2 separate regions of the Homo sapiens genome follow, and region 1 is linked to region 2. Evidence: fine-mapped expression QTL. A gene starts in region 2. The other region holds a variant in brackets. All regions are shown on one strand. Distances are from middle to middle. Region 1 has its middle 28 kb from the start of TRO. Region 2 holds the start of MAGED2 (MAGE family member D2).

Region 1 (2,918 bases), 85 kb before region 2:
AAAATGGCACCTTTGTTTAGCTGCTTAGGACTCAGGGGGCTGTGTAGGACCCAGTGTGAGCTCCCTCTCTGAAGCAATGCCATCACACAGTCTCCAGATAGCTCCCTATGTTAGTCTCAGGGTCCATGAGGGCCGAGGGGCTCTCCTATGGCTAGGATTGCAGGTGTCTACGGTGGGAATGTGGACCACTGGGGATGTCTCACTTACCCTTTCCCCACATTAGGAAGACTCTCTGTGCTCCCAGCTGATCCTAGCCAAGCAGCCTGCCTTGCTTCCCGCTCCTTCCTTCTTTTAGGTGTTTCCTGTCATTTCTTTGCTGAATTCCAGTGTTCTCTCTTAGATGATCTGCTCCAAATGTGATTATCTACTCATTGTTTTAATTATTCTAAACTAAAAAAGAACTTTAGTTTAGAAGGAGGTGAGTACCAGATGCCTCTAGTCAGCCATCTTGAAGCCAGAAACTTCTCTCCAGAAGTTAAATACAATCCTGGTGAAAAGTAGAGGGTCACAGGAGAAGGGGTCTATAAATAGCTAAAATTTTATAAGTTTCTACCATCCAGTTCAGTAGAGATGGTAAAAGGGAAGATCAGTGTTAAAGAAAGCAAAGAAAGTAACATTTCTTACATTCTTAAGTTGGTGGGCTTTATTTTGAGCAAATATTTATGTAGGTAGGCTTAGAAATAGTTATAAGTAGAAAAGCCAACATATTTCATTTTTAACTTTTATTTTAGGTTCACGGGTACATATGCAAGTTTGTTATATAGGTAAACTCACGTCACGGGGTTTGTTGTACAGATTAGTTCATCACCCAGGTACTAAGCCTAGAACCCAATAGTTGTTTTTTTCTGTTTCTCTCCCTCCTCCCAACCTCCACCCTCAATTAGACCCCAGTATCTGTTATTCCCCTCTTTGTATCCATATGTTCTCATTATTTAGCTCCCACTTATAAGTGAGAACATACGGTATTTGGTTTTCTGTTTCTGTGTTAGTTTGCTAAGGATAATGGCCTCCAGGTCCATCCATGTTCCTACAAAGGACATGGTCTTGTTCTTTTTTCTGGCTGTGCAGTATTCCATAGCATATATGTAACACATTTTCTTTATCCAGTCTACCACTGATGGGCATTTAGGTTGATTCCCTGTCTTTGCTATTGTGAATAGTGGTGCAATGAAGATACACATGCATAGGCCTTTGTGGTAGAATGGTTTATATTCCTTTGGGTATATACCTGGTAATGGAATTGCTGGGTCAAATGGTGGTTTTTTTGTTTTGTTTTGTTCTTTTGTTTGTTTTGTTTTGTTTTGTTTTTTAGCTCTTTGAGGAATCACCACACTGCTTTCCACAATGGTTGAACTAATTTACCACCAACAATGTATAGGCATTCCTTTTTCCCCACAACCTTGCCAGCACCTGTTATTTTTTTTTTCACTTTTTAATAATAGCCATTCTGACTGGTGTAAGATGGTATCTCTTGTGGTTTTGAATTGCATTTCTCTAATGATCAATGATGTTGAGCTTTTTTTCATATGCTTGTTGTCCACATGCATGTCTTCTTTTCAGAAGTGTCTGTTCATGTACTTTGTCTACTTTTTAATGGGGTTGATTTTTTTTTCTTATAAATTTAAGTTCCTTATGGATGCTAAATATTAGATCTTTGTCAGATGCATAGTTTGCAAAAATTTACTACCATTTTGTAGGTTGTCTGTTTACTCTGTTGATAATTTCTTTTGCTGTGCAGAGGTCTTTGGTTTAATTAGATGCCATTGTCAACTTTTGCTTTTGTTGCAATTGCTTTTGGCATCTTC[A/T]TTATGAAATCTTTGCCTGTTCCTATGTCCAGAATGGTTATCCCAGCACCAGTTATTGAATACGGAGTTTTTTTTCCCCCCTTACTTGTTTTTGTCAGCTTTGTCAAAGATCAGGTGGTTGTGAGTATGTGGCATTATTTCTGGGCTCTCTTCTGTTCCATTGGTCTATGTGTCTATTTTTGTACCAGTACCATGCTGTTTTGGTTATTGTAGCCCTGTAGTATAGTTTGAAGCCTCCTGCTTTGTTCTTTTTGCTTAGGATTGTCGTAGCTATTCAGGATCTATTTGGTTCCATATCAATTTTAAAATAGTTTTTTTTGGTTCTGTGAAGAATGTCGTTGGTAATTTGACAGGAATAGCATTGAATTTGTAAATTGCTTTGGGCGATAAGTCCATTTTAATATTGATTATTCCTATCCATGAGCACAGAATGTTTTTCCATTTGTTTGTGTCATCTCTAATTTCTTTGAAGAATGCTTTGTAATTCTCATTTTAGAGACTTTTCACATCCCTGGTTAGCTGTATTTCTAAGAATTTTATTTTTTGTGTATGGTAATTGTGAATGGGATTGCGTTCCTGATTTAGCTGTTGGCTAGTTAACCAGCCATACCAATGCCTCAGAACACAAGAATAAGACTCCTACTGCCACCTCGTGGCAGTATACTCTAAAGGGGAGGCTCTCATTAGTTTGGAGTGAAGAAATGCTTTCTCCCTCTATGCCATGCTGTATCATGTCCCTATGTATGTTGTATACTTCTACACATGCCATCTCTTCTAACCAGAACCATCCTTCCCTGAACCTTGTCGATTTAATGGATATTAGGTCTCATTTGTGTGTTATCTCAACCCAAGTAACCATTTCTCTATGAAGCCTTTTCTGTCTCTCCATCTTTCTCAACACAAGTAGAAATAACCTCTTCTTTCTTTGTGTTCCAATAAGCTTAAGTTCCAATAATCCACGTACAGATGTCTACGTGTTACCTAGACCAATTTACTACTGATTTTTTTTCACATACGTCCCTTCTCAAAAACTTAGCTGATCAAACATATGAATCTACGTGTGACTAATCTTAGGGTCTCCAAACTACAAAGCAAAAGGCAGACACAGATTAT
Region 2 (2,911 bases):
TTCCCAGCACGAGCCCTTTCTTTGATGTCCACCGTGCACATGCGCATTCAGCAGCTGGCTCTTCTCAGTGCTGGCCCTTCTCAACACGCCCCTTTCTAGCGAAACATAGTGCGCATGCGCAATGGTCGTGGTCTCAGTCTGGCACTCTGCCCCAACACACGCCCCTCTCCAGGTCCGCAGTACCATTCGGTCCCGCCCCCTGCCCAACAAGCCTTCCTCCAAAATTGTCGCAGTGTCTGGTGGACCCGGCCCCTCCCCTACTCACGCCCTACAGAGTCCAGTGTCTCTTGGCCCCGCCCTTCTTCCTAACACGCCCCCCTCCAAACAGGCGCATCTTGGTTCCGCCCCTTCCCTATTACACCCCCTCCTCAAATAAATACTGAGCTAGTGATTCCATCTTGGGCCCGGCCAAACCGGGTCCAGTCCCCTCCCTTCCCAGCCGGATGGATCCGGTACGATCCGGTCCTTAAGGCAGGTTTTCTCCAGATCCCAGAGGGTGGGGCCGACCCCTAGCGGGGCTCTCATCCAAAAGCCGACCCGGCTGCTCACCTCGTCCTCCTACAATTCCCGAGTGCGTCCACTCACTCCAAGCCCCTCCGAAACTCGGAGACTGCCCTCCCCTCTCTAGGCCGGAAGTGGTCCCGCCCCTTTCCGCCTCCCTAGGGGGCCTCCGTCCCAGCCTGTCTGCCCCTCCCCCGCTCCCTGCTCCTCATTCCTTATGCCCCCCTCCGTATTCCCTTAGCCTGGCTCCCTACTCCCTATTCCTACCTCACATTTCCTATTTACTCCAGAATTCCTTCTTCCCATTTCTTACATCCTCCTCCGTGTTACGTTTGCACACCCTGCCCCTCAGTATTCCTTAATCCCTCTCTGCATCCCCGATTCTCTTCTCTGGATCTTCACTCCCCCTCAGTGTTCCCCTCCCTCCTTGTATTCCTCGTCCCCCTCCCAACATTCCTGGTTCCCCGTTTTTCTCCCCTCCTCCCTCCGCTAGTCTCTGCTCCCAGTCTGTACAGCCTACTACTTTCTCAGTCGTCCTCATTGCCTACACCCCACTCCAGGTCACCTCTGCTTCAGCTGCAGTGGTGCAGTAAGAATTGCTCATCTGCCTGGCTATGGGTTCGAGGGGTCTGGAACCACTGTCTGACCTCCATAAAACCCCAATATCAACGCCCCTCACCTTGTCCTCCAGCGAGTTCGGGATGCGTCTGCCTTCTCTAAGTCCCTCTCGAAGTCTCAGCCTCCTGGACTAGAGCTGCAGACAGCCCAACCCAGCCCAGCCCCTTTCCGCAGCCCCCTGCCACCCCCCCTCGCCTTCCTCGGGGGTGGGGCAATGGGGCCCCGCTCAGGGCTGTCTGACGCCAAAGCCCATGTTTATGCCACTGTACCAGGCTCAGTCTGAAGCTCTTCCAACTCAAACCGCCCCCTGAAAGCAAGTCATTCATTGAATTTATTTTTATATCTTCATTTTTTCTTATTACAAAGGTAATATGTTGTTCTTTTGTTGTTGTTGTAAAAATTCAAACAATGCAGTAATATATAACACACCAATGAAAGGCCACTCATCTCCCAGAAATAACCACTATTAACATTTTGCTATCCAGATTTTTTTTCTATTCGTATACTAATTATTCAGGTTCTCTCTCCGACAAATGGTACACTATACATACCTTCTGTTCTGCGACCTGTTTTTTTCCAGTTATATATAAAACATCTTTCCGTTAGTGCACATTTTTCTAAACAGCTGCATGATCTTTTCTTGCATAGATGTCCCATAATTTATTGAACCAGTCCAGTACACATGTACATTTAGATTGCTTGGTGCACTTTTTGTTATTTATGGTATTTTTTGCTAGCTCAAATGCTACAAAAAAGTCTTCCATTTTGATGCAAAATTTGTCAACTTACTCCTAAAAAGTAAATGGATAACATTCCCGCCAGCAATGTCTCTCCTGTACATGTCACATATTACAAATATTTTTCATGTTATTTATGATAATTTTTGCCAAACAAAAATGTTTAATTATTATGTAGTCAAATATATCCATTTTTCCTTCATCACAACTGGATTCTGCTGCTTGCTTAAAGATGCTTTTCACACTCCTATAACAAACCCCGTTTTTTTTTTCAAGCACTTTTGTGGCTTTATTATTTACATTTAGATGTTTGATCATTTCAAAATTTATTTTCTATACGGATTCAGCTTGATTACTCTTCAAAATCATAGTCTCTTACCTCTACATCATGTGCAAACTAATCCATCTTTTCCCTCTCTGCTTTGAAATGGCACCTCTATCACATAATAAATTCACATAACCAATTGGATCTGTTCAAGAGAACAAAATAAGATGTAAAATAATAGGAAATAGACAAATCATCATTAATTACTGAATATATAAATGCAGACCTGGAAAACCCAAGAGCATCAACTAAAAAGTTATTAGAAACCATAATAAAATTCAGCACAACTGTTAGTTGCAGAAATAATATTCAGTGCCTTTCCACATATAAATGTAATTCAAATGGACACAAGTCTTCTGCTTTATGTGGTCACCTTTTACTATGTAAATAACATATAATGAATCCCTGTGTTCCATGGATAATTCAAGATAGACAAACACACAAATTTCTTGCATATTCAAGGCAGGCTTCTGTTTTCCTGTCTTTTCTCTTTCTCTGAATTATTGCTTTCTCCAAGTGTGTGATATCAGTTCACCATGTTCTTGCCTCCTAGATTTTCTCCCTTATCCACACTAGACATAGCCCCTCCTTTTCTTCTACTTCTGGCATCTCAAATTCCCCACCCCTTCCAAATCATGGCAAGTTGGCAAGTTTAGAATGCCAAGATGAGGACTTTGGTGTTGATCCTGAGAGCACCCAGGAGTTACTAAAGAATTCTAGGCAAGGATAC

The links. PIP is the estimated chance that this variant, and not a neighbour inherited with it, causes the effect. A credible set is the group of variants that fine-mapping cannot tell apart.
Region 1: its variant is the best candidate, but not a certain one, in a credible set for the expression of MAGED2 in nasal epithelium (TOPMed, PIP 0.62).

What each region holds. Positions count from the first base shown.
Region 1 is chrX:54,891,315-54,894,232 of GRCh38, reverse strand. No RefSeq gene overlaps it. Among named protein-coding and RNA genes, the nearest start is that of TRO, 28 kb to the left of the region's middle. The variant A/T (reference allele first, on the strand shown) is at 1,806.
Region 2 is chrX:54,806,072-54,808,982 of GRCh38, reverse strand. It overlaps MAGED2 (MAGE family member D2), which reads right to left and starts at 1,238. Exons shown (of 13, transcript NM_177433.3): 1 at 1,181-1,238.